3 linked regions of the Homo sapiens genome follow. The protein of the gene in region 1 interacts with the protein of each later gene in a pairwise test. Each region holds a gene or a part of one and is shown on either strand. Other genes may lie near its edges.

Region 1 (10,602 bases):
ACAATGTACCAAGATCCCTAAATTGTACATTTGAAATGGGTGAATTTTATGATGTATAAATTACATCCCAATAACACTATATTTCAAAAATATACATCACAGTACTAGTCATAAAGACTAATAACTGAAAACTGCCCAAACATCCATCAACAGTAAAACAGTTAAACTGTGGTTATATTCCCACAATGGGACACTATACAACAACTAAAATAAACGATCTATGACAAACACAGCATTTGTCACAAATGATGAGCAAAATAAGCGAGACACAAAAGAGTGCCTACTGTATTATCCCATTTATGTAAAATTCAAAAATTGGCAAATCTAATTTCTGCTAAAGTCAAAATAGTGGTTACACTTGGGGGCGGTTGACTTGAAGGAGCATAAGGGAGTTTCCAAAACAATTATGTTTTATTTCTTCAGTTGTGTAAATGGTTACATGATTGGGCTCACCCTGGGTCCACCCACTTATAAAATAAAGAAGGGGGAGGAGAAACAAGAGTACATGTATATGTCTTATAATATGTGCATTTCTGTATACGTATGGTACATTTTAATAGGATTTCTCTAAAAATCACCTGTAATCTCAGGAAAAAAAAAAAACCCAGAAATATCAAATGCCCTTCAGTTAGGTAACGGTTAAATAATAGAATATAAATGTACAGTAGCCATGACTGGATATCCACAAAGCATCTAGGCACCTCTTCTTTCTTAAAGAATCAATCCCACTCTTAAACACAGTGGGAATCCCAATTAAGCTAAGCTAACAGCATCAAAAAATATGAAATACTCAGGGATATATGGGATAAAAAATTTGAAAGACCTATACACTGAAAAGTACAAAACATTGCTGAGTAAAATTAAAAACCTAAGTAAATGGAGCAGTATATCTTGCTTATAGGGTTGTAAATACTAATATAAATTTTATTTTGATTTTATGACTTCGATTTTCTATTTTTTGTTGCTGATATACAGAAATACAACTGATTGATTATACTGTGGGGGTGGTTTCAAGACACCTTGCAGTTACTGCCTTCAGGATTTTGGAACACTGCGCCACAACCACCATAATATAAAACAAGTCTGAACTGAATGACCAATGAGGAGGGGGGAATGGCCCAACCAGTAAATAATAAATTGCTGTGTTTTAAGCCACTAAATTTTTAGATGGTTTGTTATGAAGCTAAAGAAGCCTTTGCCCGGATAGCATTAGATTATTCAGGCTGGTTTTAATTCAGAGGAATTTCTTCTTTCTTGAACTTAACAGTCAAGGGGCAATATTACTTTTTGTCACAGATTCTTATCCACTAAGGCTCATTTCAAAATGAAGATACAAGCAAGTCTCTCTTAAAGGTTTTGGATTTGTACTGGCTGAATATGGCTTTCCCCACTAAGGATTTTAAGTTTCCTCTGCTTCAGTTTTCTTCTATCAGGGCATTCTGCTTTAACTCTCAAGTGGTCTTGGCAGGAAAAGGGATCTCAATGTAAAATAATATATATAGCAGAATAAACTTATAACTGTGTCGAAGATGGCAATAAGTTGAGCTGTAATAGGCAAATTATTATAAAGTTAAGACTCATTTACCTGATAGGTAATCCCATAACTGAAATAAGCTGATGATCAAGGCTTTTTAAGCCTACATCACAATTCACATATTATAAGTGACATATATCTTTATTTGTAGGAAATTAATAATGGAAAAGAACCAAAGGAGGTTTGGATGTCTGAACTAGCAATACGGATTAAAGGATCTGGGCCATACCCAACATGGAACAAGATGTCTGAGTAAATTATTCTCATACTAAGAGAAATAATACAGTTACTGCTACCTTAAGATAAAAGATTAGGAAGGAAGGACAAACAAAAATGTCTATCTACTGTATTTAGCCTTTGAGGCTTGAACATTATATTGTCAGAAACTTGAGTTTCTGAAACCTAACTGAACTACTCTGTGTATTTCTATCACTAGCTGCACTTTGTTTTCCATAAATAATTAAAGTTTGCTTTGAAATATTAGCCAATCTCAGTAGTATTAAGAGAAGCCAGGGAAAGAGGCTTTTGTTGTTGTTGTTGTTTTTAACTTACATTTAAATTTAGAACAGTATCATTTAATTGGTAAAGGGGAATATTTCAGTTAAAACTAACAGGCTGGGTGTAGTGGCTTATGCCTATAAATTCCAGCACTTTGGGAGGCCGAGGCAAGAGGACTGCCTAGCCAGACCAGGCTAGGCAACACAGTGAGACCCTGTCTCTACAAAAAAATCAAAAACAATTAGCTGGAAATGGCGGCACACTTCTGTAGTCCCAGCTACTTGGGAAGCTGAGGCAGGAGGATGGCTTGAGCCCAGGAGATCAACACTGCAGTGGGCCATGATCACACCACTGCACTCCAGCCTGGGCAATAAAATGAGACCCTGTCTCAAAAACAAACAAAAAAAACCTTAAAAGCCTATCTGAGTGTTAAGACTGGGCTTATACACGCCCTTTCTCACCTACAGATTTTCCTTCCAGAACTCTTTTTCTATTCAAAACCTAAAAGATTTTATTTTGACTGGGAAAACTAGGTCATTAGCAAGGAGATTCAAAATCTTTCAAGAAAGAATTGTGAAGACAATGTTCTCAGTATCTTCTCGATTCTTCCTTTTGTACACAAACTCAAATGGTAAGAATTACAAGTTAGATTTTTCTCACTGGAATGGGAAAAAAAGCATAAAAATGTGTCTTCTGTATTTTTAGAAATAATAAAAATATTCTTTAAATATACTAGAAAGAAAGAAAAACCAACAAAAAAGTATACTATAAAACAGACACATCTGTAAAGGAAGTAAAAACAGTCAATGTTATATTGAGGTTGCAAGTTGACAAGAGGCCAAGATGAATGGGATACAAGAGACTGATTTGAGAGGATACGATAATCAAAGATATTTCAATACATGAAAAATAAAACTGTTGAAATCTATGAAAACTGTTAATAACAAATTAATTCTAATTTTAAAACATGGAGCACAGAGGCATAAGCTATAAATTAGACTGTATCAATATAAGAAAAAAACTGAGGATGTCATCCAGACAGGAGGAAAAATAATCAAAATAAACTAATACTTTAGTAATAATTACAGATAGTATGCTGATTATGATAAACTAGGTAAGGTAAATACTTAACAGTTAAGCTCCAAATAATCTAAGTAAATGCTGAGATCTGTTATGAATTTATCTGATGACTGACTTCTTTTTTCCTGACTACACAAGTTAGAGACTCACAGTAATCACTGTCAAACATCACTATTTCATAAGAGCAACTGAAAAGAGTAAAATGATTTTGAATAAAAGGTTGAGATCCAGAGTTTTATACAATCAAATTTTCAAGCATGCAGTATTTCCAAGTATGTTTTCTGTAAACTCCAGTTTTACGAAATGCTCTTTAAAAAGGGGGTCTTATAAGTCAAATAGGTTAGGTAATCGCTGCAAAATTTTGGTATTTACACTGCACATTACTCAAAAATCAAAGTTTCTGAGAAGTTCTGCAATAAATAACCTATCTAACATTAATAACTGAAGCACTGCCCACATCTACTTGATTCTACAGTATTTATTATCATTCCATTAAACATTTAAAACATACTTTAATAAACATTAAGGTATTCTGGTCTCCATTTTTATGTTTTATCTTGAGAGGCAGTTTTAACTATTATTCCTCACTAAGGACATAACAGATGGGAGAAAAAAAAATTAGGCTTCATAACATGTCTAGTCAGAGGTTAGAAAGTGAAATAAGTTAAAATGAACACTGGGATAACTAAAAATTACGTGTAGGTAGACTATTCTTTTACTTTATAATCAAAGTACAACACTGGTTCAAAACAGAGAAACAATGAAAACATAAAGCCAAGTTAAAAAGGAACTAGATCTCCATCCCTTAAGATTTCTACTAACACTCTTGGAAACTCCACAATCATGAAGATAATCCTCTGCCAGTGGTAAACTAAGCTTTCAAGTTTGAAGTAATTTTTCCTTTTTAACTTTTGTGTGGAATGTTCCTTGTCCAAATTAACTATCTGCATATTCAGGTGTAATCTCAAATGTCACCTCCACCAAAAGGTCTTCCCTTATCATTTCATCTAAACTTAGCTTTCTCAGCTCCAACTTCATCAAACATTATTACACTGTTTTGACTTCTTCATTTATTTGATTACCAGTAGAATCCAGTGCCTAGAATAGCGCCAGACACATAGTGGATGCTCAACAATTACCTGTTGAATGAATTAACACTATTTTAGCATAGTAGCTTTCCATTTGTTTTATACACCAATCACGGTTAAAAAAGGGTAGCAAAAACAGGAACTAATACTCATGTTTATTATTTCAGTTTGAAAAAAATGAATGTAGCACTTTGCAACTTAACTTTTTTTTTAAGTTGCAACTTTGCAACTTAATTTGCAGCTTTGCAAATTAATGGAAAGTTGCCTACTCTGTGTGTGCAATATTGTTTATGTGTATGTCAAAGGTTCTTCTCTTCAACTCAAAGAAGGCATACAATTTCTAGATGGTTTGAGTAAATAAGAGTAAAAACAATCCTGAAGATATCTTTTCAGCATTAATATAACAGAAGGCCAGTCTTACCTCTAAAAAATAAAACCTGTTTAAAGTTTTGAAAAACCCTTAACTTCTGAAATGAACATGAGTTATTTCAGTTAAAATTTAGCAGACTGAACATGAGGACTATTCCAGAGTACCAGAATAACTGAGAAGTTAAATGACCAGAAGAAAAGTAATTAAGGTGAATTCTAAATACGAAACACAACAGGAAAAAGTGACTACCCGAGCCTCCATTTCTTTATTCATTCATCTTGTATGAATGTTACAGTTCTTATATACCTATCTACTGTTCATAGAGTTGAACAGCTACCTTAATGGGTAAACTAACAGAGATGAAGATTGGCATTTGAGAATATCTAGATCCAGGGCCTTTAAACAGTAAAGTGGGATTGATCTTCGGATCAAATTATCCAGAATGTAGTTTTAATCTCTCCACAGCTGCACAACCACAAAACATGCCAATAAGTCAACTTCTAGTTTAAAACATTTACACACGAGGCAGGCGGATCACTTGAGGCCAGGAGCTCGAATCCAGCCTGGCTAAACCCTGTCTTTACTCAACAAACAAAAAAAAGACGTCTACCCAAAGGTCATCTACTTTTCTCTCCAAAAGGGGCTCCAAATTTCCACCTTTCTTCAAGTTCGCCTCAAGGCAACCCATAGTGATTTCTTTGGACACGTAAGGTAATTTCAGCTCTGACAAAAGCAGGTTGCTTTTTGTTTTAATCAGAATGCTCTAGACTTGTTACCTGTCTCTATATTTTCTCCACATCATAAAATCTCCAAATTGATCTCTGAATAAGAAATGTGAGACCTTCCATTTTTGGCAGACATAACCTATTTTCTAAGTAACAACAACAGGAACAAAAAACTTGCTAGACAAAATAATCATGCCAAGGTTTCTAAATAAAAAAAAAAAAATGCCAGGTATGAAAAACCTCTGCCTGCTATACTATGAAATATTAGACTCACATTCCAAAATTCAGAGAAATAAGAAACCTTAGCATTGAAACCTAATTATTTACAAAGCAGCCACCACCAATGCAAGTTATTGGTTCTTAAATTACACTATCATTCTTCCATATGGCACAAAATCCAGGCTTTAAACTTGCCTTATACGTTCTCGAAGAATTATTTATCAAGAACAGAAAAACCTTAAGATTCTCATGTACATGTAATACATACACTGATATATAAAATGCATATACATATATTCTTTTATAGAAATAGTAGCAGGCTATAAGCAGACCTTAAAAGCTATGGATACTAGGTGGATTCTAGGAGTTTGGAAACTGGCTGTGTCAAGCCTGGGTCAAGGTCACACGTAATAAAAGAAATGTGCCTAAAAGTATATTTGTTCAGTTTTAAGGAGGATGCTGTGTGTTTGAATTTAACATCAAGGAACACAGCCAAAAACTAGAAAAAAACAAAAATGAAACGAATAAGCAACTGGTCCAACACGTTAGGGCAATTTTAATAACCTAATCTGCAAAGCCAGAATAAAGTATTTTAAAAGTTATTGAAAAAGTGAACATTAGCTTCCTGTCATAATCCAGGAAAACAGAAAACTATAATACATACATCTGGTGTGCTAACACTCAAACTTAAAGGAAAATGACCTAATATTGACCTAATTTAATTATTCACCAGGCTGAATTCTTAGAACACTCAGCATTCTTCACCCTGTAATTTTAATCTGTATTTCTACTAGCATAAAAATTTTTGCCTTCACTTTACTCTGTATACTGTGTATCATTCCAGTCTGTTACCTCATTTAAAAATAAAAGGCTTAAAAAAGTTACTATAAATTACCATCAAACAATCTGATTTGCCTTTATTAGGTTTCTAAATAATGCCAATATACTCTATTATCCAAACGTGCTGTCGTCTAAATATTTTCTAACTCCAGTAATTTTTTACCAAATAAAAATTCCTTTTAAATGGGAACCAATTTGAATGATGAGGCTTTCTAACAGATTAAAAGATAATCAGTGTAATGTACGCTAGAGGTAAGGATGACCAAGTCTTACCTTTATCAGTTGTTACTTTTTCTATGCATCTGAAAGAAATAAGAATCAAACATTAATGAACAATCTAGCACATTTTCTGAAAATATAAATATCTCTTTCAGGTTCACCTCCAGAGTGATAAAGAAAGCATCTAGACTAGTGTTGTCCTACAGAATTTTCAGCAGTGATGGAAACATATCTGCACTGTCCAATATGGCAGTCACATGTGGCTACTGAGCACTTGAAACAGTTCATGTAATTGTGAAACTGAATTTTTAATTTTGATTAATGTAAATTTAAATAGCCACATGTGGCTACATAACTGACAGCACAGAGCTAGAATATCATTCAAAACACCTATTTTTAACTAAGATATTGATACAAAGAAAATATTACTAATTTTGTTACATTAAGTGATTATATAAGAAAATGTTCTTATTTTATATAAATGTACTAACTAGAGATGAAATGATGTTTGGGATGTGCTCCAAAATACTTCTGCCAAAACAGGGAGGATGGACATAGCAAGCATGGCAAAATCTCAGCTAGGTGATCAATACTGGGGTTTCATTATACTATTTTCCCTATTTTGTGTATATTTAACAATTTTCATAATAAAAACTCAATGAAGTGTTAAAAAGACCCTAAAATTGTTTGTTAAGACCAAATCAAAATCTACTTGTAAAAAGACAATAGGTGGACCTCACAAGTAAATGTAACTTGCCCTTTACAAATTAAAAAGCAACAGTAAAGAGCTTAAAAATTGTTATAGCCTGAAGATTTTTTTAAAAACCCCCAAAACAACAAAAATCAGACATATCCCCAGGTTTTTCATTCAGAAAAATTTCTCTCATACGTAACTGGTGAGGACAGTATAATGAACTTCCTATACTTACTACTAAAATTCAAAAGTCAACAGGCCCTGAACATTTATCATATAGATACCACAGAGTATCTCTGAACAGTACAAAGTTTTTTTGTTGTTGCTCCTCCCAAAAGTAAACCTAATATAGTAAAGACTCTATTATGTTACAATATGTTATAAATAAATACCCAGACAAATACAGAAGCCACAGTGTAATACAAAAATCTATTCTACTTAGAAACAATAGTTATCACTGTTTGTTCCATACTTTTTTAAAAAAGACTGGTATTATAATTTTATTTTAAATCACATTACCAATGTCCCAATTAACACACCATAACTGCTAATCATCCCATCTTTAAATAAAAACTGCAGAAATAATTGCTAAATTTTTGAAAAATTATATAACAAACTTTTCCAAAAACCTTGAAAGTTGGTTCAATGTTTCTATCATCATACTGATTAAGATCCTGATCACAGGATTTCAGTCTTGTACAACTGAAGGCTTCTCCAAAGAACTGTAAGTTTTTTCAATTCAGAATATTACCACCTCTTCATCCTCACTATCCATGACCTTCAAAAGGGAAACAGCAAGAAAGGTCACCTAAAGGTTTATTACTGTTTTAATTTTAGCAAGAAAATATACCAAAAATGGAATTTCACATACTAGAAAATAAAACTACTTTCCTTAATCTGAACCTGAAGGAAGACATCTAAAAATACTCAGTATTAGCTAATATGGTTACTCAACAGCGAAGTTAGAATTTTTAAAAAGTATTTGTCCCTAAAGTTTTAAGTTTTGAAATGCACAGGATAAATGAAGGGCTATTACATGTAAGAATGAAAAAAAGCCTTATACATTTTAACCTAGTCTTAATTTGACAATTTCATTCCCTACTAGCAGAACGCATGGATGAATCAGAAAAAAATCATAGGCAAAAACTAGTATACTAATGCTACTAGATTTTACTTCAAAAATTAAAGACAGTATATAAACGTGCACTTGAAATAACTGTAATTTACTGGCTAACATACAGCAAATGATCAGTCTTACTCTTAGTATGGATACATAAACTTTCTTCAAATTTGGTTTATTTTTCCTACTAGCTTTCTATGCTTCAATTTATCATGATTCTAGCATTTAACTCTGTGCTTCTCTTGAGCACAATGAAAAATTTTTATTTCCCCTTCATCCACAAATATTTCCTCTTCCCAATAACCCCTAAATAGTTCATTGTGAAAAGAAGTTGTTATAAACATCAGATTATAAAAACTGTAAGCTAAATATGTCATCTCGCAAATTCATAAAATATCAATTATAAATGAAGCAATTATAAATGAAGAGGTTAAGTGACTTGCTCAAGGCCACTTACTGCACAGTACAAAGCTGGAACATAAAACTTTCTGACTAAAGTCCAATGCTTTATCCACTCTATTATTTTGCCTTCCAATGGGAACAGAGGTTTCAACCAATCCAAATCTATCTATTTCTTGACCTTTTAAACTATGGTATACTTTACTATCACTTTAATTAAGAAAATCAAATGTAGGTTAAACAGCTGATTACTAAGATTGTATACAGGGAAATGCTGGGATATGGAAAAAGGACTAGCGCGAACAAGTAAGTAATACAGAATAAACCTTCCTTTTTAAAATTTTCAAAATGTCATTTGGAAAACAGAAATGACTCAAAGTCAAAGATACCAGACCAGGGTTTGGACTCAAAACCTCTTGAAATATCTTAAAGGATTAAATTATGTAGAAAAAATTAAGTCTTAAAATGTATTTTATGACTGAAAATCTGTATACCATACACACATTTGACATATCTCCACTAATTAATGCATCTTTGCCTTACACCCCAAGGTCCTTGAAGATGAGGGCCATGTCTCATTTTTCTTTCTACCACCTAGTTCAGCATAGTACCAGGCCCAGATACTGATGAAACAAGTTTGCCAAGCTAAAATGCTTTAGCATTCCTCTGATTTCCAGATTATGGAATAAGGTAAAAATGTGTAACAAAAACTCTATTATGACGAAAATTTGTTTAACAACCTGATCAAAAACACAGTCAAGAGATAATTTTGGGGCTGAAAGAAGAATGCCATTGTCACTACTGTTTTCTAATGATATTGGATGGGAGGCGGGTGGCGCTAAGAATTCAGCCTTATTTCTTCCTCCCCACAAGGAACATTGTGCAGAAAAAAGGAAGGAATTTAATTAAGTCATCTTCATCCATATACAACAGTAACAGTTATATGGAATTAAAGCGTCACTAGTACTTTGTTGCCAAGAGTTAGGGCAAAAATAAATCATGACAGCAGGTAAAATTACTGTTTTAGATAAAAATTATTTATTTTCCTTCAAAAATTAAACAGCAGGCTGGGCGCAGTGGCTCACGCCTGTAATCCCAGCACTTTGGGAGGCTGAGGCGGGTGGATCACCTGAGGTCAAGAGTTGGAGACCAACCCGGCCAATATGGTGAAACCTCACCTCTACTAAAATTACAAAAATTAGCTGGGATTGGTGGCGGGCGCCTGTAATGCCAGCTGCTTGGGATGACGAGGCAGGAGAATTGCTTGAAGCCAGGAGGCGGAGGTTGCAGTGTGCAGAGATCATCGTGGCACTGCTCCAGCCTGGGCAACAGAGCAAAAACTCCATCTCCAAAAAAAGAAATTAAACAGCAGGTACCATTTTAGACATAATTATCTTATCTTGAGATATAGGTATATTTAATTTTCAAGGGGTAGGTGAGAATAAAAGGAAATTTTAAAAATATTTTAAGTATTACCCTCTCTACGAATAGTAATATTAAAGAGTGAAAAAATCATATTTTGCATAATTTATATGAAAAACCTCACTACAAACCACTCAAGGATCTACCATCCCACCATTACTGAAAAACGCAACTTGTACTTAGTATTTACAACAGGCATTGTGTCTAGCACTTTACACACTGTATTTAATTCTCACAAACTCACGTTGCAGAGATTATCCTCTATAGGTAAGGAAACTAAGGCATGGGTAGGTTAAGGAATTTGCTCACGGAATTCATATCCAAATGAGGTCAATGATATACATGTATCTTTTCAAATTCATGAGATTAAACAATATAGAACTATAAAATTTTT
Region 2 (10,602 bases), on another chromosome or scaffold:
TTTATTTATATTTAAAAAGTATTTGTATGTGTTAAGATATTTTGCCATTCAATACATTTTAAGAAGTTAACCTTATTTCACGTCCGCCCAATGAAAAAATATTTTGCTATACTATAGGAGAAACTTGAATCACTTAGAACTTGTCATTTAAAATATTTGTTTATGGAAGGGAAACCTCTTTTTCCTCTTGTTATCCCTCAGAGATCTTTTTAAATGGAATGTTTTACCTTTTTCAGCACATGTAAGTTATCTACTTGTGAGAAGGGAGCTGATTAACCTGTGATATTTTTGCTGAAGATTTGTATGTCATTAAATCAGCAGTATATGCTCAACACCTACTAATGATAGTAGTCACTAGGAGAGATAGAAAAGATTGAAAATATATCCCTGGAAAAATTAATAATGCCAAAAGATCTGTTCAAAAAAGGTTTTATCCAAAAAAGTTAATCAAGACAAGCAACAGATACTGCAAAGCATTATATACAGCACCATAGTCCAGGGGCCAAAGAAATCAGGAGGGGCTGGGCAGTAGAGGAATTCCATATATTAATGAATGTGAGATTAAGTATAGAGTGAAGACATTAACACACAATTCTAATTTCTGTTAGGCAGAATGCTCCCCTACCCTGATGCCACAGCCTTTCACGTTTCCTAAACCCTAGTAACCTCTGATCTCCATCTGCCTCATCAACACGTCACCACCCTTTGCTCTTCTTCCAATTAGTCACATGTTGGCTGAATTTATTTCACTCCAGTACTTTAGGACCTTGACAGACAAATCGATTACAAGGTCAATTCCCAGGATTTCTTCAGGGTGTGTTCAGGAGTGCAGATGTTCTTTGGATGACCTTTCTACTAAATTAGACCTCTGAAGGAGAAAGCTACTTGCCAGAGGCTTTCCCTGAGAGCATTAGGTTGGGCAAAATCTGACTAAAATTTAATTACTAAATGAAAGTGTGTACCTTAGAGTTCCTGGCCAGAGTTGACTCTAGGTAGTGATGTGATTTTCTTGGGATGTTTTTCTAAATATTCTTTTATGCTAAAGCACATGGCTTGATACTTCTGTTGATTAAGCTCGTGTCTACTTACAGTCATCTAGTGAGAACCTGTGGTGTGGTGAGATGATAACTTGGTCTTTGGTCTTCATCATTTGAACTAGTTTTGGTTTTGTCTTGTCCCTTCCTTGAGCATTTTGTGTGTGTTTAATCCTATTTGGTAAACGAACCACTGTGAAAGACCAAGTTGGAGAAAACAGAACACCCCCAAAACATTTATTTTTTTTTTTAGAAAATCATGGCTCACTATGGTAGTATACAATATTGTTTTCACACATGTACACTTGAAACCAAATTTCTAAAACTTGTTTTTCTTAAAAAATAGTTGTTGTAACATTAAACCATAACCTAATCAGTGTGTTCACTATGCTTCCACACTAGCCAGTCTTCTCACACTTCTTCTGGTTTCAAGTCTCAAGGCCTGACAGACAGAAGGGCTTGGAGATTTTTTTTCTTTACAATTCAGTCTTCAGCAACTTGAGAGCTTTCTTCATGTTGTCAAGCACTAATGGGGGATAAAAGCAGGAGAGTCAAGACACCATCGTGCGTTATATCGATATAATAAACCCCAAACTTGGATGCTCAATTCATTATTTAATGGGATGCTTTTTTTTTTGAGACAAGGTCTCACTCCCACTCAGGCTGGCATGCAGTGGTGCAATCTCCACTCAGTGCAACCTCTGCCTCCTGGGTTCAAGTGATTCTTCAGCCTTAGCCTCCTGAGTAGCTGGGATTAGAGGTGTGCTCCACCATGCCCAGCTAATTTTTGTATTTTTGGGAGAGATGGGGTTTTGGTATGCTGGCCAGGCTGGTCTCGAACTCCTGAGCTCAAGTGATCCACACACCTCGGCCTCCCAAAGTGCTGGGATTACAGGCGTGAGCCACTGTGCCCAGCCTGATAGGATGCTTTTTATCATGAGGTGAATAGTTGGTAATCTTATTGTAATTTAAAAAAATTATATGAAATGGCTTTTGTGACAATCTAGTTTTCTAGTGTAGTCATTCCTTCCCAGATCCTTCATCTCCAACCCTCACTTCCAAAAGAATCCTTTTATAAGCTCTAGCAGCAGAAGATAATTTTGGCTCATTTAGAAGTAAATTTAAATCATGTTTAAAAGAAATGTCTATTAGTAGGTGTGTGTAAATTGTTTTAGAAGTAGGGGAAATATAAATAATAGCAAACCAAGTGCTTTATGCAGATGAATTCTTTAATCCTCATACAAACACGATTAGAACTTTATATATACATAATGAAACAGGCAGAGAGAGGCTGAGTAGCTTGCTCAAGGTCACACAGCTAACAAGTAATGGAGCTACTGTTCCAGAGCCCAAACTCTGGGTCACTGTTTCTTCAACAGCAATTCATCAAAATGAGGTATGTGATCTACTAAAAATAAGATGTCCACTCGATAGGCATTGAACAGCCGCTTATTCACTCTTCCTACAAATCTTAATTATTAAGTGCCTGTTCTACAAGGGATTGTGATATTACTTGTGTAGGACACGTGCCTTTTAAGAGCTTAGTCTTATTAAAATGTATGGTATTATCTCAGTAATGGCTGACAGTACTTGGAATGTGCTTCCCCTGGTCCAGCACACACTGGAAACATTGCTAATGGACCATGATGATCTCTCCTGCTTCCTAGACACGGCCTCACTTCTCTTCCCAACATGACGTTCTAAGTCAGCACTGGCCAATAGAAATTTCTGTGATGATGGAAATGTTCAGTGTCCGGGCATTGAGCACTTGGAATATGGCTAGTGTGACTGAAGGAATGAATTTCTAACTTTAACTTAAGTAGCAACATGTGGCAAATGGTTAACATATTGGACAGTGCAGTTCTAGGCAGCCACTACTAATTGATCAGAGTTGGTTCCTAGGATAAAACCCACTTTTCTTCCCAGAGGACTAATCAGATGTCACAGCTAGCTACAGCGTTGCATTGAGGTACCTCATCTGCCTTAAGTCAGTGTCTCTCTCTCTCTCTGTCTCTCTTCCATTGATGGCAACCATAGGGAAGGTAATTTTCTTGGCAATCATTTGGATCATCTTTGAAACTGATCTTTAAACTGAACCTGAATTTAATTTTAAGCTGGACTGCACATTCTTTCACTTTTGTTATTTAAAAAATTAAGACATGCAGATTATTACAATTATTACACTCAGTTCTGTGATAGAAGGAGTGTGTGCTCGTGTACCTAACAGAAAACCTGAAAATCAGGTAATGTGGTCATAGAATCCTCCTAGAGAAAAAGATACCTAATCTAAATAATTCATCTTCAATTGAGATTAAAAACAAACAAACCTGAGATGGAAAGAGTGTGATTTGCCTGAAGATGCAAGGCTAGTTAGGGTCAAACTGAGTCCGAGGCGTCCCTAAGCCTAGCTCTCTCTCACCTCACCATGCAGCCTCTAGTCCCATCACTACAGCAATAGAGGTGTTCAACTCTTGGGCAACATCCGAATTGAAGGTCACACTTACACAGAGCTGTATCTGCAGGTTCGTAAGCATAGAGACGATTTGAATATCTTCCAGTGATATCGGCTCTAACTGTCAGAGATGGGTCTGCAAAGATAAATGAAGCAAAAGGGAATGGAATGGTTTGTTTTCAAACAACCTGTATTTATTGCCCCGGGGAGCTGAAGTTCATGTATTCATGTCCTGTGAGGGAATGGAGTGTGTCTGCACTCACAGGAGCTCTGATCCATCCACTCTACTACCCAGCCCCTGGCAGTTAGTAGCAAATGCAGGGCTGGAAACATCAACAGCTGTGCAGTGCTATTTGTGGAAAAGGTTATGAACCCTTCTGTTCTATCTATGGCAACCTGAAAACAGAATAATATATATTTAGGGGTGACATGGTGTTTTTTTTTTTTTTGGTGAAAACATTAACATTCTCTACTGCAAAATTATTTTAAATTCTTGAAACGATTATGTTGTAGTTTACATGTTTCTAGATCATTGGAAACCCACATCCAATGCTAGTTTTCAAAACGAGTTTTTTAAAAAAAGTTAATAGAGGAATGCAAGTCCTTAACAACAGCAAAGTTCAAATAAGCATATAGTACCTTCACTATATTTTACTTTATTGTTAATTAACTGCATTTTTAAAAGTAGAGATTGGTCTTCTCTTATGTATACTTATATCCCTCTAAATTTAAATCCATCTTGCCATGTTTTGTATTTAACTTGAAGTGATCTAATTAATGAGAAAAAGAGGTATTTTAAAATTAAGGTGCATCCAAAAGGGAAGCGTGAGGATACAGAGAGATCTGGAAACCTTGCCTTGAGAGACGTAATCGAAAGAACCTAGGACACGTGCCCTGAAAATGAGACAAGGAAGACATGTGAGAACCATCTGCATGTTTGCAAAGTCTGTCGCTGGTACTGGAGTGGGCAATCTGTCATTTCAGAATGTTGGACTAAGGCCAGACACATAAATTACAAGAAGCAGATGTACATTTATTCACCAGATTTAAGACCAACTATACTTCTGTTTGGTGCAGAGGATACAAAGACACGGTCTAATCTTTGTAAGAAATTAACCTAAGAAGGGCTTTTTAAATACCCAACTAGCAGCTCACCTGGCTGCACATTGGAATCATCTGGAGAGCTGTAAACACTATGGATGCCTGCCTCCCACCCCCAGAGATTCTGATTTAATTGGTTTGAGGTGTGGCCTGGGCAACTTGATCTTTAAAATCCTCCAGGTGATTCAAACATGTAGTCAGGGTGGCTACTACGGAGCTAGAAGAGCAAGCTGCCTTGGAGCTGGTTCTTAGGACTGAAGGAATTGAATGTGGGTTAAAATGCCCTTCCACAGGGATGCTGTACAAAGAATTCCTGTACAAGGTATGAACAGACATCTATAAATTCCCTTTTAATGTTAGGATTCCAAATGTCCTAAATTCTGACAAAACTAAACCTATAAAATTAGTGCTTTAGTTCAGCCTTCTTCCTTTTTTTCTATTTCTTGTTTTTCTTTTCCCTGCTTTGTACATTCAGTGTAAACTTTTAATGAATTACACAGGTGAATCATATGATTAGCATGAATTGTTGTAAGTGATGGATTTCATTATGGATTGTCCTTAAATCAGTATGACTTTGAACAAAGCCAAACTCAGTACATTCATTCAATAATTAAACACATATTGATGGAGAGCCTACTGCAGGGTCACGTTGGGAATATCATGGTGAGCAGAAATAGGTACAGTCCCTGCCATAGGGGCTTATAGTCCAATGTGGGAAATATTTATTACATAACCACCCCCAAACTGCAAAATTATACCTGAGGAAAGTATGACTACAAGAGCACATAGTAGGGATTTGACTCGGTCAATGAATAATGATGATTGGGGAGTTAATGATGTGAAATTGGGGGACAGAGAAGGAAGTGGGGAAAGCATATGAAAAGTACCAGTGGCAGGAAGGAGCATGTGGCTCCTTTCATTTCTTTTTCCCACCTCATATTCCTTTTTTTTTTTTGAGACAGAATCTCGCTCTGTTGCCCAGGCTGGAGTGCAGTGGTGCCATCTCGGCTCACTGCAACCTCTGCCTCTTGGGTTCAAGCAATTCTTGTGCCTCAGCCTCCCAGGTAGCTGGGATTACAGGCTCCTGCAACCACGCCTGGCTAATTTTTTTTTTGTATTTTTTAGTAGAGATGGGGTTTCACCTTGTTGGCCAGGCTGGTTTGGAGCTCCTGACCTCAAGTGATCTGCCGGCCTTGGCCTCCCAAAGTGCTAGGATTACAGGCGTGAGCCACCCAGCCTTATTCCTAACTTTCTTAAAAATAATGATAAAAAATGTCAGAAAAATCTAACACACAAAGTGAAAGTTTGCTGGATTAAAAAATAAATATTTGCAGGCCTCTCGTATTCAGGAAATTTATCAATATGTTTAAATAGTGAATAGGGTGCTTTGTTCTCAGAAGTATTATAGCAGAAGATGAAAAGTTACAATTAGCATGTGAGAAAAGAAAGTGTTGTGTGGAAATAGGTAAAAGCTCACATTTTCTAAAGAAAATATGTTGCGGAACTTAAAGGAATGTCATGCTCCTTGCTAGAGCTTAGTGATGACATTGGCCATGGCAACGTGGCAAGGGACAGTGGGGAGGAGAGAAGGAGGATGGCAGCACTAGTATGTGTTTCCGAGTTATCTCACTGTCACTTCCGCTTACCAACAAACATAATCCTGGGGACATACTGGCCATCAGGAGAAAGGTGTTTGTCAGTTGTTTCATACTAAAATAAAAAGAAAAGCATCTTTTAGTTTACTTTGACTTTTCAGTCGTTTTCAAACTTGTTAATACAAGAATCTGTCCATTTCCGGCCAGGCATCTCAAGATATCATAACTCTTCCACACAGAGTTTATTGTACAGATGAGGAGACAAGTTACAAGCATGAAATAATAAATAAGATAGAGCAGAACATGAGATAAAGTGCTGAATGGATGTGATAAAGAGCAAAAAAATTAAGGGAGAATTTGGAAGGAGTTACTGTGTTTGGGGAAGACATCTGGGATGAAATAAGAGGCTATTAAGGAAAAAAGCAGATGTCATTTCTAGAGAAATTACGGAGACAAGTACGGGATTTTCTTGAGTATTCATTTATCCATTTATCAATTTTTATTTAGAACTGTATTTAGCAAGGCATGGTGCTTATCTTTAATGAATGCACACTCTATTGAGAGATACAGGTAGGAAAATGAATATTGAGGATGCAGTGGGTGAAATGTTACGGTGTAGGATATGCAGGTTTGGTGATTGCCTTGAGCAAGACATTTAGCCCAGAATGCAGATTCCACCCCGACTAGGACTTTCTGAAGTGGATAAGGAGGAATCTTTACAAATGAACAGGAGTCAGTTAGGTGGAAAAGAAAGACACTTCATGCAGGGGGAAGAGTATGGAGAGGACAGGTGGAGCATTTTCTCCTATGGCCAAGTGCTGGGGAAGGACTGAGTTGGGGGGATGCACGAGGGCAGTGGCGAAAGAAGGTGCTAGAGCTGCTTCAGGGGCCGGCTTAGGAATGACTTTGCACACCATGCCATAGTGTTTTCCTTTGTTCAGAAATAGTTAAGAACCACTGGAGGGATGTTAGAAGAGGCACTGTGACCCCAGTTTGGTCTGTAAAGCAACTTCTCTGACAGCCATGTGGGATTAGACAGAGTTTATCTTGTAGACCAGGAGCCATTTAGCAGTATTACAGTAAGCTAGGGAAAGTGAAAGAGGCTTACTAAAATAGTGGTCCTGAGTTTATAGAGAAGTGACTAGTAGCAGGAATACTTGGAATTTAGAAGCACAGGGCTTATTGCATGCTGTAGGTAAGTAGGAGAGTCCAATCTAGCACAGTACCACTTTCAGTAAAATAGGGAATAGAGAAAGAAGAGCTATTGGAAAAGCGCAAACCAAGATGATTAATGTGCAGTGAGGAACATACTGAGTTTAAGCTGATTATGAGATATCTGGAATATGGTTGGATAGACAATTTGGAAGTTGTTTCATGTTTGGGTAAGATGTAGGAATTATTAGTGTGTCGGAATTGATTAAAGGCAGTTGTAGATGGAGTTGTTCACTGAATACAAAATATGGAAAGAGAAAAGGGTCAAGTAGAGATTCATCATGTCACTCACATTAAGGAGTAGGAAGAGGAAGAGGAAGAGCCCATGGAAGAGAGGCAAGGAAGAACTACTGGTGCGAAGTGGTCTTTAAGGAAGCCAACCTGTGAAGAGGAAGGGCCGGAGGGCTCAAAAGGACATATGATTAGGTAGAGTCATTTTTTTGTTGGCTTGCTTTTAGAAGGAAAATGAAACATTTGTATACAGTAAAAAGAACTTGCCGAGACAGAAAGCTTGAGCACCGTGAGGGGTGGTAGTGGTGAAGTAAGGTGGGAATGCATGAAGCTAAAGCACAAGAGGCATGATTAGAGTTGGAAAGCCAGAGAGCTGTCTCTTCCCAAGAGATGACCAGGATTAAGAATGGGTGTAGAGAAGCCAGGACTATAGAGGGACAGGCACAGCAAGTAACAAAAACCTTCCAGCAACAGAAAAAATTCTGACTACGGGAGATAATTTTTCAGACAAACTAAGATGATTAATTACTAAATAAAAACAGACACACCAAATGGATTATTAATACAACGAAATATCTTTTTTCTCTCTAATTTATGAGATGGGATATTTGGAAGCAATCCCAGTTAATGCAGTATAACTAAGATGTATAGGAAAAATGAATCATCCATTTCAAGTAATGAGCCATAGAGAAATGTTAGTAATGATGAAAAGGAAACTTACAACCAGATTGAGGAGGACAAACTGCTCTGCCAATTTCTGGATTTCTTTATTTTCAGCAAACACTTTCTTTAAAGCTATAATATAAAGAAAAATCATTAAGCATCCATCTTAGCATTGGTTAAAAGCTTTGTTCAATTTTCAGTTAAATTGCATTTTATTTACTTATTGAATTGCATTTTAAATACAGTATTCTACTTTGGCCTTTTAGCAAATGATTAGTGAAGTAATATCTATGGCATTGACTACCTCTGCTTTCTATTCACTCATTCATCCATTCATTCATCAATTCATTTTTTTCTCCAGCTCATATTTATTGAATGGCTGCCATGTGTTACGCACTGTGTTCTGTACTAGGGATGGTGCAGTGAACAAAAAAAAGCATGTGTTTTTTCACAGAGCTCACATACTTGTGTGGGAGACAAACCATAAACAAAGAAATAAGTAGATGATACTTTCAGGTAGAGATATGTACTTTGAAGAAAAATAAAGCAAAGCAAAGGGTTTAAAAACTGTGAGTGGTCAGGGCAGATCTTCCTGAGGAGCTAACGTTGAAGTGAGGGAGTGGTCCATTTTGGGGTAGGCCACTGTGGGCAGGGGGAACTGCAAAAGCACTAGCTGTGAGGTGGGAATGAGCTCACCTGTGGGAGGAACAGCACGAAGGCCAGGCTGGAGAGAGTGAAGAAAGCAAGAGGAGAGTGGTAGGAAGGGAGAGATAGCCATTGGCCTGATCATGTCAGCCTCATAGGTTGTGATCAGAAATTTGGATTTAGTTCTGTGATAAGAAGCCACTTGAGCACGTGAGTGATGGAATCTGATTTATGTCTACCAGCCTCACTCTGGCTTCTGTGTGGACTGGCTGTAGGGTGGCCAGTTAGGTGACTGTTATGGTAGTCTAGACAAGATCTGATCTGGGCTTGGACCAGGGCAGTAGCATGGAGGCAATAGGAAGTGGTTGGATTTGGGCCCAGTGCAAAATGAAAGGGTAGAGCCCCTTGTTGAAGAATTACTAAGACTTTTAAGACAATGATAGCCAAGTTTAAACCAAGTTTGGGAACCTTCTAAGCTTGGGGCCCTGTGAGATGGCACAGGCTTCATGCCTGTGAAGCTGGTGCTGGTTTAAGGATATATTTTGAAGATAAAGCCAGTATTTGCTGGTGTATTGAATGTGGACTGTAAGAGAAATCAAGAAGTTGAAGATGAATCCTAAAACTAGTTTTTCAAAATATGTACCAATGGTTATCACAAAATGTGGAGATATTTGAAGTCACTTTTAAATATGTTTTTACTATATAAAATATTCTTTCTTTAATGCAACTGTGGTTCTAAAGATACAAACATGAGTGATCTGAACCCTGGCCCTAAGGCTAAAAGCCTATAAAGGAAATCATACTTAGAAGAATAAATTACCTTGACTGTGTGGGCACTCATCCAAGTGATGAATAATCATCAAGGGTTTGTTGCTTTAAAAGACAGAGATTAGACAAATTTTAATGAGTAAGATTTCACATATATCTAGATGTCACTAGGTGGTGCTCTTGAGAGCTTTGAGGGAGCTCTGAGTAATCCTGATCTTTACCTTGTCTTGGATTTATATAGAGCTTCTTCATATGTCTGAGTCCAGATGAGTTGGTCACCCCAACCTAGAATGAAATGAATCAGTATATTTGAAGCTTGTATAAATTCAGACCCAAAGCTGTTGAAAAGCAATGGTAAAGACTGGGATAATAGACCCTATACTAAAGAAGAAGAAAAACCCCTGGAGAAAGTAGAAATAATTATAAACAGTGATAAGTCTAGAAGGAACACAACCAAAAATAACCTGGCACCAGGTTAGAACCAGGTTTAAGCACCAAGAGAGAGGAAATCTTTTCCAATTAAGTAGCAGTTGGAAGCCAACAAGAAGCTGACTCCTACCTCTGGAGAGGGTCTGGGGCAGTTTGGGTCGAGAGTCCTTTGTGTCCTTTTTGGCTCCAGGTTTGACTGTGGTATCTCTGGCCAGAGTGTAGGAGAGGGCCACAAGGAGCAAGAATGCTGACACTGGAATTTTCTCCATGGCAACTCTAGTATGGAAAACCAACCAAAATCAGTAAACAAAATTGAACTAGCAGTCTTCAGGGTCTGCAGGTTGCCCCACAACGGTGGAATATACCAGAAACTGAGGCTCTGCTGAGACTGGACATACGAGATTGGCGTAAATAGCTCTGTTCCATGGGATTTTCCTAAGAATACAGGTGGTCTTTGACTTACAATTGAGTA
Region 3 (11,516 bases), on another chromosome or scaffold:
AAATATACATTTATATAAATATATATAAATATACATGTATATTTATTCATATAGAAATATATATAAATATACATGTATATTTATTCATATAGAAATATATATAAATATACATTTATATTTATTCATATAGAAATATATATAAATATACATTTATATTTATTCATATATAAATATACATTTACATATAAATATATATAAATATACATTCATATATATTTATATATAAATGTATATTTATATATATTTATATATATTTATATTTATTTATAAATAAATATATAAATATATATAAATATATATTTATATTTATATATAAATAACTATATAGATTTATATATATTTATTTATAAATAACTATAAATATAGATTTATATATATTTATTTATAAATAACTATAAATATAGATTTATATATATTTATTTATAAATAACTATAAATATAGATTTATATATATTTATTTATAAATAACTATAAATATAGATTTATATATATTTATTTATAAATAACTATAAATATAGATTTATATATATTTATTTATAAATAACTATAAATATAGATTTATATATATTTATTTATAAATATTATAAATAAATATATAAATATATATTTATATTTATTTATTTGTATTTATATATAAATATAATTATATATAAATATATATAATTTATATATAAATTTTTATATTATAAAATTATATATATATAAATATATAGTGTGTTAGAAGAGAGAAATTCTAGGAGGCAAAATAGGGAGAGTGGCATGGAGGGGGCATTATCTGTCACCTGGATTGCTGCAGGGGCCTCTGAGTAGTCTCCCTACTTTTAATACACCCCACATGACCCCTGCTCTTCACAACGGCAAGCGGGATTCTGTTCCATCCTAGATCATACCACATCTGGCCTCTGCTCAGAATCCTCCCGTGACTCCCATCTCATTCAGAGGAAAAAGTTCTCGCCACGGCCTCCCTGATCTGACCTCACCACCTTTCTGACCTCACCTGCCACCACATTCCCCTGACTCACTGTGTTCCACCCACAGTGGCTTCCTTGCTCTTCCTCAAATATGCCATGTAGAGTCCCACCTCAGGGCCTTTGCTCTGGCCGTTCCCCCTGCCTGGACTTCTCTTCCCCGAGATATCCGCATGACTCACTCTCTCACCTCCCTTAGGTCTGTGCTCAGATGACACTTCCTCCGTGAAGCCTCCCCTGTCCACCTCATCTAAAACTGCAGCATCTTCCCCACCCCTAGCACTTCCTATCTTCCTTCCCTCCTTTATGTTTATTCTTAGGAACTTGTCATCATCTGACATACTATACTTCACCCGTGTCTCTTCTTTGTTATCTAGAATGTCGGTTCCACAAGGGCCGGGATCTTTATCTGTGTAGTTCACAGCTGTATCCCCAATACCTAGAACAGTGCCTGGCACACAGATGCTTGATAAATATTTTTTCAGTGTATGAATGAATATGCACAAGCATCCCTACATGTTTATATTCACACATACTTGCCTCCTCACCTAAAATAAAAACCAAAGTCCTCATCGTGGCCCACAACCCTACACAATCTGGCCCCAAGGCATCTCTGCGACTTCACCTTCCACCACTGTCTCCCTTGCTCTCACCGTTCCTGCCTCACTCGTCTTCCTGCTGTTCCTCAAGCACACTAAACACATTCCTCATCATGAATAAAGAAATCTATTAAGTGAGTGGTACCAGCATTTTAAGAACACATGAAAGAGAATAAAAATGAATGGGGTACATTGCATACAGGTTCAGTACTGTTTTGTGAAACTTTTGGTTGAGCTGTGTGTGTGCGTGCATGTATGTGTAGCGGGTTGTGATGTAAAATGTATTTTTTTACTGTGGGTGGCAGTAAAAAAAAGTCTGAACACAACCTTAGAGCTTTGCAAAAGGGGAGAAGAGCTGCACCAACATCCCTGCCCCACAGATCCACCAGTGGAGGAAACAGGTAACCAAAGACATCCAAAGAAATGCAGCATCCTCACCTGACAAGGAGCGGGTAGGAGCAGGAGTGGCCCAGGGGCAGGGCCTGGCACCAGCCAGGGCATAATTGGGGAGGGCTCGTAGACACACTAACCCTACCCTTTCTGTTTCTTCCTCATCTTTCCTTTCCATCTGTTTCTCATGGTCTCCTGTCTGTCTCTCTCTCTCTCCCCTCTTTCTCTCTCCTCGCTCTTTCTCATCCCCTCCATTTCTGTGTCAATCTCAATCCATTTATATCGGTGGCCACTTTTCTATCTCTTTGTTCTATCTCTCTCTCTCTCTCTTTCCCACTTTGTCTCTGCACGCCTGTTGTGTTTTTCTGCCTGTCTCTCTCTTGCCCTCATCTCTCTGTCTCTCTCTTGCCCTCATCTCTCTGTCTCTCTGTGTCTGTGTCTCCCCCGCTCATTCCCATTTGCAGGTGCAATGTAGCAGGACAACTCATGGAGCCCCCCCGGGCCCATCGAGTACCGGACTGGCTGACCCCCTAGGGTTGGCAGTAGCCCCTGACCCTCAGTATGGCCAACACTACCGGAGAGCCTGAGGAGGTGAGCGGCGCTCTGTCCCCACCGTCCGCATCAGCTTATGTGAAGCTGGTACTGCTGGGACTGATTATGTGCGTGAGCCTGGCGGGTAACGCCATCTTGTCCCTGCTGGTGCTCAAGGAGCGTGCCCTGCACAAGGCTCCTTACTACTTCCTGCTGGACCTGTGCCTGGCCGATGGCATACGCTCTGCCGTCTGCTTCCCCTTTGTGCTGGCTTCTGTGCGCCACGGCTCTTCATGGACCTTCAGTGCACTCAGCTGCAAGATTGTGGCCTTTATGGCCGTGCTCTTTTGCTTCCATGCGGCCTTCATGCTGTTCTGCATCAGCGTCACCCGCTACATGGCCATCGCCCACCACCGCTTCTACGCCAAGCGCATGACACTCTGGACATGCGCGGCTGTCATCTGCATGGCCTGGACCCTGTCTGTGGCCATGGCCTTCCCACCTGTCTTTGACGTGGGCACCTACAAGTTTATTCGGGAGGAGGACCAGTGCATCTTTGAGCATCGCTACTTCAAGGCCAATGACACGCTGGGCTTCATGCTTATGTTGGCTGTGCTCATGGCAGCTACCCATGCTGTCTACGGCAAGCTGCTCCTCTTCGAGTATCGTCACCGCAAGATGAAGCCAGTGCAGATGGTGCCAGCCATCAGCCAGAACTGGACATTCCATGGTCCCGGGGCCACCGGCCAGGCTGCTGCCAACTGGATCGCCGGCTTTGGCCGTGGGCCCATGCCACCAACCCTGCTGGGTATCCGGCAGAATGGGCATGCAGCCAGCCGGCGGCTACTGGGCATGGACGAGGTCAAGGGTGAAAAGCAGCTGGGCCGCATGTTCTACGCGATCACACTGCTCTTTCTGCTCCTCTGGTCACCCTACATCGTGGCCTGCTACTGGCGAGTGTTTGTGAAAGCCTGTGCTGTGCCCCACCGCTACCTGGCCACTGCTGTTTGGATGAGCTTCGCCCAGGCTGCCGTCAACCCAATTGTCTGCTTCCTGCTCAACAAGGACCTCAAGAAGTGCCTGAGGACTCACGCCCCCTGCTGGGGCACAGGAGGTGCCCCGGCTCCCAGAGAACCCTACTGTGTCATGTGAAGCAGGCTGGTAGGCAGACAGGCAGAGAGAAGGTCATGGCCACCGTGATGGGGCCAACAGCAAGGGAGGGGTAGGGGCCCATACAGGAGTCCTCCTTTCTGAGCTCCAGCCCCAGCCCCTCGAACCACCTGTAATCTAGGCACCTTTGCCAACACCTCCCAAGGATGGAGGACTGGGCGAGGGACTGGGAAAGAGGCATATTTAGTTTTGTGGGGCCTGTCTCCGCTGCCTCCTTCTCCACTTCTACAATCTCATTCTCTCTCTCTCTCTCTCTGTCTCTCTCTCTCTCTCTCTCTCTCTCTCAGAAGTGACAATTCAGAAAAAGAAAAGAACACTGAGAATGCAGGTTTTTCTACTAACAGCTGAGGAGACAGGCTTTCTTACTTTAATGTCTCTCCTTCTGACACTGTCCAGAAGGGGGAATTTGTCCTGTAAAATAGACTTCCAGAGCTCTTTTGCCCCCTCTGCTCCCATGCACCCTCCCCTTCCAAGTCCTTTAGCAAGGCCTGGATGTTTAGGGAGAAAGTGGTCCAAGGCTGCTGACAAGAGGGACCAAAGGGGGTGCTGGGTTCCCAGGGAGCAGGGATGTTTAATTACTATGTCATGTGCAATGTTGTTTTAGGCCAACCCTTGCCCCAAGCCCAGTCTCTTCTCCCTCCCCACCATGTCCAGACCTCCCAAATGGTTCTTGTGCATCTGTTGGAGAAGTCAAGGGAGTAGGGAGAAGGGCCCCAAGGATGGGCCCAGGTTAGGTGAAGAGTAAGATGTGAGCTGAACTCCTCGAACTGAAGAGACCCACACTTGGTCACATTCTCTCACGCTGCCTTCAGGATCCCCAGCCCCCAACTCTTCTTCCTGAGGATGGAAATCCACTCCAGCCCCACTAGGACTGATGTGGGTGCCATACAGGCAGGAGCAGCCCACCAGGAAAGTGTAAGGAGGGAGCTGAACTCCCCAGAGTAGCTGGACCACAGAGACTTGGGTCAGAGCTGATTTCAACCCCAGAATTGTCTCTCGGGTTCACCCTACTCTTCTGAAGATGAAAATTTGTTTGGGGCCTTGGTAACCGATAGCGGTACAAACTCCAAGGCACTGTGGACTTGAGTCCATTCCTATCTGACCTCTTTTTGTCCCCCTCAAGCCTCAGGGGCCTCAAGCCCCTCCTTAGTAGCCCTTGGCTGACTGGGCCCTGAGCCCCAAGCATCCTTCTTTCCCAACAACCCTCCTTCCCCATCCTTCCCCCACCCTTACCTACACCCAAAGTGGAGCACACTGCAGTCAGATTCTCCAGGAGGGAGATCCAAGCCTCCTCCCAGGGGTGGAGTCCACTCTGGGCTTACTTTGAGGCCTGTTCTGTGGATTGGTGAGCCAAGCTGGCACTCCTTGCCCTGGTCTTACCCAGGCTCTCTGTCCCCCTCTCACTTCCTGTGGGGCCGGAATCTGTATTTATCCATCCCCCTTTCCCTTCTTTATAGAAGTCCCTGTCCTAAACTCCCTCCCTAGCCCAAGAGAGCCCCAGAACTGGGGAAGCCTGACCCATACAGAATGGGGAGGGCACTCTAGGCAGGAGAGACATTAATGAGCCTGGCTGCAGAGTGGCCCTGGAAAGGCAGGCCAGAGTGGCTGAGAGGCTGGGAGTAGGGGAGCCTGTTCTCTCAGCGATAGTGATGGGGGTGCCTTTCCGAGGGGGTGGGGTGGGAAGACCAAGGGGGTGGGGGGTAGATAGGGTACATTTAGGAGGGTTTTCCTCCATTTCTTTTTTCTAACTGCCTGGATTCACCATTGGATTTTGTAAATGGAAAAACTGAAATGAACAATGCTATACTGGATGTTTTCTCTTTCTGACTGTGTGTGTGTGTGTGCGTGCGTGCGTGCATGTGCCCTGTCTGACCACATGTGGAGAGACATGATTGAGTGATAGTGTGTGTCTGTGTGACTTTGTGTGGGGAGGCACTCCTGAAGAAAACTTGCCCGGTGCACACACGTAAAATGCCTGTATATGGGGACAGATACAGCACGTGCATGCATACACACACACACACACACACCACAGTTGAGAGGAGACAAACTAGAGTATGTGCCCGTGGTAGGAAGTCGAGTGGTCAAGAGATGGATCTTGGAAACTACATAGGTCGGTAGCAAGAGGGTAGACTCCCATCTCACAAGATGGGCCTCCCTTGGCCCAGGCCCTGAGCACGGGAGGGCTGGGGCCGCCAGGGAACTTGAAAACCTCATCTCCTCACAAAGCCTGTAGCCCCATCTCAACCCCGTCTCAGTCTCCTTCCCAAACTCAAACAAGGTGTTCCTAAAATTGGACCACCATGGAGAATGGGGACTGGGAATTGAGGATCAAATGTGAGGGAAACTGATGAGGTTAGGAAATGCCCCCCACAAAGTAATGGCTTCTGGAGGGACTGCTCAGTCTGGGATGGGAGCCCTTCCTAGGGGCCACTGTATGCAGCTGGGACTTTGGTCAGCTTTGACCAAATTTAGAGGGAGGGATGTCATGGGGAAAAAAAACCCAAGCCCAGGAGTCTACCCAGCCAGCCTGCTCCCTAGACAGTTAATTTACTATCTGGTTATTCTCTCAGGTGCACAGAATTGAGTTGACCATACTCCTCAGTTCTTGGCACACTATATCATCATTGGTCCATGTGAGGCCCTTTTATTTTTTTTTCTTCAGTTTTGTCCCCTTCATCACCCATTCCTGATCCCATCCTCCCCGCCCCCTACACAGGCACCCACTCTCGTGTATTTAACGTACGTCCTTCCAATCCACCGTTCATGTGTTTATTTACATATATGTGTATCTGTGAAAAATGTATGGTATTGCTGTGTGTTTTAATTTACATAAACAGTATTGTACTATAAATCTTGTTGTTTCTTTTTTCACTCAACATTCTGTCTTTGAGAGATCCAGCCATGTTGCCGTATATAGATCTAATTCATTCTAGTGGTCCATCTAAAACATATATCACATTTTTCTTATCCACTCCCCTGATGATGGATCCCTAGGTCTCCTCTCTGCTCCGCGACAAGGCTGCAATGGGCAGTTACCTACACCTCTCTTGAGGGATGCCTAATTTAGGGGAGAGAAAACTGAAGCTCAGAGAGGGGCAGTGATTTGGTTAAGGTTACAAAATGAGGGGCACACCCATGATGTGAATCCCAGCACCAAAGCCAGCCCTCCACCACCATGCCTCACAAAAGACCATCCATCTCTGGTTTAAAAAGAAAAATCTTAAAATACAGCATACACTGGGGAAAGGGAGAGGAAAGGATGGAAAGGGGGAGAAATGAAGAGACAGAAAGTGCTAGAAAATTCTAGCAGATGAGCTGAATCACAATCATTTTTATGACGCAGAGGAAGTTACTTTTTTGTGTGTGTGATTATTATTTGTAGAGCCATTTTGCGGAGATGGAAAACGCCACGTCAAAACCTGGCCCCCAAACCAAACACCCTGGGTGCCTAAATTGCAGGCGCAGGCGGTAGGGCAGCCCGAGCCCCCGAGGAGCTACAGCAGAGTTCACCCAGGGGGCAAACGTGGGGGGTGGGGGAAGGGGCAGAAGTGGAAGGTAGGAAAAGAGGCAGAAGCGGGGGGGCGGGGGGCAGGGGTTGTGTGAGGGAAGGGGCAGAAGTTGGGGGATAGGGGAAGGGCAGAAGCGGAGGGCGGGAGGGTGAGGGAAGGGGCAGAAGTGGGGTTGGGGGGTGAAGGAAGGGGCAGAAGTTGGGGGATAGGGGAAGGGGCAGAAGTGGGGGTGAGGGAAGAGACAGTTGGGGGATGGGGGTCAGAAGCAGGGAATGCGGGAAGGGGCAGAAGGGGGGGTGAGGGAAGGGGCAGAAGCGGGGGAGGAAGGGGCAGAAGCGGGGGGTGAAGGGGCAGAAGCGGGGGTGGGGTGGGGGAAGGGGCCGAAGCGGGGGATGGGGGAAGGGGCAGAAACGGGGGGTGGGGGAAGGGACAGAAACGGGGAGTGGAGGAAGGGGCAGAAGCGGGGATGGAAAAAGGGGCAGCAGTGGGGGATGGGAGAAGGGGCAGAAGCGGGGGTGGGAGAAGGGGCAGGAGCTGGGATGGGGGAAGGGGCAGGACCCGGGATGGGGGAAGGGGCAGAAGCGGGGGTGGGGGAAGGAGCTGAAGGAAATGGGGGAAGGGGCAGATTTTAAAAGTGCGTAGTTGCTGAGGGGAGGGGGGCGGGGGGAACGATAACGAGGCTCTTCCAATTTCATGTGAGCACATCCTGCTCAGCGCCTGCGTTTGTTTTTCGTCTCGTTTTTTGGTCTTCAGAACCACTGGTACTTTTCCCATTGGATAAAACGCTGAGAGGGTGAGGGAGAGGGGCTTCTTCCCCAGCTTTCCTCGCAGCCAATCGCCCTGCAGTTTCCCTCCCGTCGCTGAGGGAGTCAGCCCGTTGATTGGCGGGCCCGAGGGGAGCCAATCGGAAACTGATGATGTGTGGTGTTGGCAAGCGGATTGCGTGAGAGCGGGCAGGGGTCGCGGGAGCGCGATCGCCGCCGCGGCGGCCGGCAGCCAATGGCCAGGCCGAGCGGACCCCTGCGTCAGGAGTGGGCGGGGCTTCGGCGATTGGCGCGGAGGGAGTAGAGCGGGCGCTGTGGGAGGGAACGCCAGAGCGAGGTGGTGAGGAGAGCTGGTTGCGTGAGTCTCCTCAGCTCTGCTTACCGGTGCGACTAGCGGCAGCGACGCGGCTAAAAGCGAAGGGGCGAGTGCGAGTCCCCTGAGCTGTACGAACGCGGTCGCCATGGACCGCCCAGATGAGGGGCCTCCGGCCAAGACCCGCCGCCTGAGCAGCTCCGAGTCTCCACAGCGCGACCCGCCCCCGCCGCCGCCGCCGCCGCCGCTCCTCCGACTGCCGCTGCCTCCACCCCAGCAGCGCCCGAGGCTCCAGGAGGAAACGGAGGCGGCACAGGTGCTGGCCGATATGAGGGGGGTGGGACTGGGCCCCGCGCTGCCCCCGCCGCCTCCCTATGTCATTCTCGAGGAGGGGGGGATCCGCGCATACTTCACGCTCGGTGCTGAGTGTCCCGGCTGGGATTCTACCATCGAGTCGGGGTATGGGGAGGCGCCCCCGCCCACGGAGAGCCTGGAAGCACTCCCCACTCCTGAGGCCTCGGGGGGGAGCCTGGAAATCGATTTTCAGGTTGTACAGTCGAGCAGTTTTGGTGGAGAGGGGGCCCTAGAAACCTGTAGCGCAGTGGGGTGGGCGCCCCAGAGGTTAGTTGACCCGAAGAGCAAGGAAGAGGCGATCATCATAGTGGAGGATGAGGATGAGGATGAGCGGGAGAGTATGAGGAGCAGCAGGAGGCGGCGGCGGCGGCGGAGGAGGAAGCAGAGGAAGGTGAAGAGGGAAAGCAGAGAGAGAAATGCCGAGAGGATGGAGAGCATCCTGCAGGCACTGGAGGATATTCAGCTGGATCTGGAGGCAGTGAACATCAAGGCAGGCAAAGCCTTCCTGCGTCTCAAGCGCAAGTTCATCCAGATGCGAAGACCCTTCCTGGAGCGCAGAGACCTCATCATCCAGCATATCCCAGGCTTCTGGGTCAAAGCAGTATCCTTCTAATCGATACTCCGTAGGTCAGAAGCCCGTGACAGGAAAGGGGAAGGTGGGGGAGGGACAGAAAAGGTAAAGCGGGTGGAGGAGAGCCAGAGGTGGGCATGATCCCCCTATCGGAAGACGGACTAGACTGGGTGGAAGAGGGATGGAAGGAGGAGGGCAAAACAGCAGAGAAGCTGGACTGGAGATGATGAAGGGTGGTGGAGGGGGGGCGGACATAAAAACTGGACCACAGATGGGAAAGGGGGAAGAGGAGGAACATAGCATTAAAAAAAGGATCACAGATGATAAAAAGGGGGAGGGTAGTAAAGGGGCACACAGCAAAAAAATTGGACCAGAGATGGTGAAAGGAGGAGGGGAGGGGCACGTAGAAGATGAACTGACTCAGAGACCTTGAAGAGGGAGGGGAATGGCACACAGCAGAGAAACTGCCCAGAAAGGGTGCTTGAGCCATACAAGGCTCTGTAAACCTAGATTTTTGCTTAAGATACTAGGAGACCCCAATCCTGGCTGGAGTGCCTTGCATTGGAGGGAGGGGGGCTGGAGCCCCTGAAAGATCAAGAGAGGGAGTGTCTAGGTATAGAGAAAAAGGAGTTAAATGAAGGAAAGGGGAGAGTAGACACATACACATACATGTAACATGTTAGGAACATGAGTCGAACATCCTAATAGAATTATGTGGATACAGACCCTTAGCCCTCATATGAAACAGCACATGGTAAGAGGCCCTTAGCACCCAGGCATACAATATCATTTAGACATAGGACCTCAGCTCCTAGACACAGTATTATGTGACCACAGGTCCTCAGCATGTAGACACATGGCATAACTTGACCACAAGCCATCAGAGCCATTCACACATCATGTGGACATGGACCTTCAACACCCATACATACAATAACGTGACCACAGGCCCTCAGCAATCAGTTACAGCATCACTTGGACATGGCCCTTAAGCCCCCAGACGTGCATTTTGTGAACACAAGCTTTCAGCACCCAGTGACATATACCACATGCACATGGATTGTCGACACCCTGTAGGGCCACCTAACATAGAGGTTTATCATGGGAATAAGTATGGGTTATGTCCCATGACTCACTTGCTTTATACACACCACATAAGCACAGAAGGAATCCTCATGCTCCAGCCTCTCTTACTGTGCCCTTCCTGGCCTTCCCTCCCTCCCTTTCACGGAATAGTCAATCCTTGACCTAAACTGCTCCACTCATCAGTTCCTCAACCACCCCAGAATTTCAATTTTGATCAACCGACGTGATGAAGACATTTTCCGCTACTTGACCAATCTGCAGGTCAGGCCAGAGAGACATTTTTTAGTAGGATCGGGCACGAATCTGGTTCTTGGAGGTGACGGGAGGTGGGTGGGAAGGGCCGTGGTGTGTTGGGGGGGGGACAGATTCCACCATCACCCCCACCTGGAGCAGGTACAGGATCTCAGACATATCTCCATGGGCTACAAAATGAAGCTGTACTTCCAGACTAACCCCTACTTCACAAACATGGTGATTGTCAAGGAGTTCCAGCGCAACCGCTCAGGTAAGTGGCAGTACCAGAGTAAATCCATGTTCCCCCCCTCAATCTGTCCTTGTTTTGTCCCATCTCCATAGCCTTCTCTCTCCCTAGGCCGGCTGGTGTCTCACTCAACCCCAATCCGCTGGCACCGGGGCCAGGAACCCCAGGCCCGTCGTCACGGGAACCAGGATGCGAGCCACAGCTTTTTCAGCTGGTTCTCAAACCATAGCCTCCCAGAGGCTGACAGGATTGCTGAGGTGGGGCCCTTCCTGGCATCACCAGAGAAGGCCTTGCTAGGCTTGTTCCTGGGTGCGTGGGGAATTAAGAGGAGGATCTGGAGCTTGTACTAATGGCTGTCTTATTCCTTCTCCCCTTTTTCAACAGATTATCAAGAATGATCTGTGGGTTAACCCTCTACGCTACTACCTGAGAGAAAGGGGCTCCAGGATAAAGAGAAAGAAGCAAGAAATGAAGAAACGGTAATGGGAGTTTGGTCGCTGAGAGGTGGTTTGTTGGGGATGGGGAAAAGACTAGTGTAACACAGGATTTATGGAGCCAAAAAGGGACCTTTGAGATAATCCCAGTGGAATATGTTTTACAAGTGGGAAATCATGCCCAGAAATGGCTTGAGGTTACACAGTCAGGGGCAGAAGTGGGACTTTACCCACCCTAGCCCCATTCCTGGGATCCCTTATAGCCTACTGCTTCCCCAGTTACTTCCCACCTTTGAGTGCTATGAGTACACCACCTCCCACCAACCCTATACTCAGCCACAGC

The links.
Region 2: the proteins of ZFP91 (region 1) and AGR2 interact in binary tests that used the Homo sapiens proteins (3 or more experiments, as listed by UniProt).
Region 3: the proteins of ZFP91 (region 1) and TSPYL2 interact in binary tests that used the Homo sapiens proteins (3 or more experiments, as listed by UniProt).

The regions. Positions count from the first base shown.
Region 1 is NC_000011.10:58,580,910-58,591,511, reverse strand, and holds part of ZFP91 (E3 ubiquitin-protein ligase ZFP91), read right to left. Parts: intron 6,657-10,602; coding exon 6,628-6,656; intron 1-6,627. UniProt on the Homo sapiens protein: Atypical E3 ubiquitin-protein ligase that mediates 'Lys-63'-linked ubiquitination of MAP3K14/NIK, leading to stabilize and activate MAP3K14/NIK. It thereby acts as an activator of the non-canonical NF-kappa-B2/NFKB2 pathway.
Region 2 is NC_000007.14:16,791,398-16,801,999, forward strand, and holds the end of AGR2 (anterior gradient protein 2 homolog precursor), read right to left. Parts: intron 10,407-10,602; 5' UTR 10,400-10,406; coding exon 10,261-10,399; intron 9,987-10,260; coding exon 9,923-9,986; intron 9,807-9,922; coding exon 9,754-9,806; intron 8,421-9,753; coding exon 8,347-8,420; intron 6,298-8,346; coding exon 6,234-6,297; intron 3,623-6,233; coding exon 3,539-3,622; intron 1,561-3,538; coding exon 1,511-1,560; 3' UTR 414-1,510; downstream 1-413. UniProt on the Homo sapiens protein: Required for MUC2 post-transcriptional synthesis and secretion. May play a role in the production of mucus by intestinal cells. Proto-oncogene that may play a role in cell migration, cell differentiation and cell growth. Promotes cell adhesion.
Region 3 is NC_000023.11:53,074,104-53,085,619, forward strand, and holds the start of TSPYL2 (testis-specific Y-encoded-like protein 2), read left to right. Parts: upstream 1-8,263; 5' UTR 8,264-8,395; coding exon 8,396-9,202; intron 9,203-10,441; coding exon 10,442-10,519; coding exon of another isoform or gene 10,520-10,651; coding exon 10,652-10,763; intron 10,764-10,850; coding exon 10,851-10,996; intron 10,997-11,123; coding exon 11,124-11,218; intron 11,219-11,516. Other genes in the region: GPR173 (probable G-protein coupled receptor 173), read left to right, coding at 2,519-3,640. UniProt on the Homo sapiens protein: Part of the CASK/TBR1/TSPYL2 transcriptional complex which modulates gene expression in response to neuronal synaptic activity, probably by facilitating nucleosome assembly. May inhibit cell proliferation by inducing p53-dependent CDKN1A expression.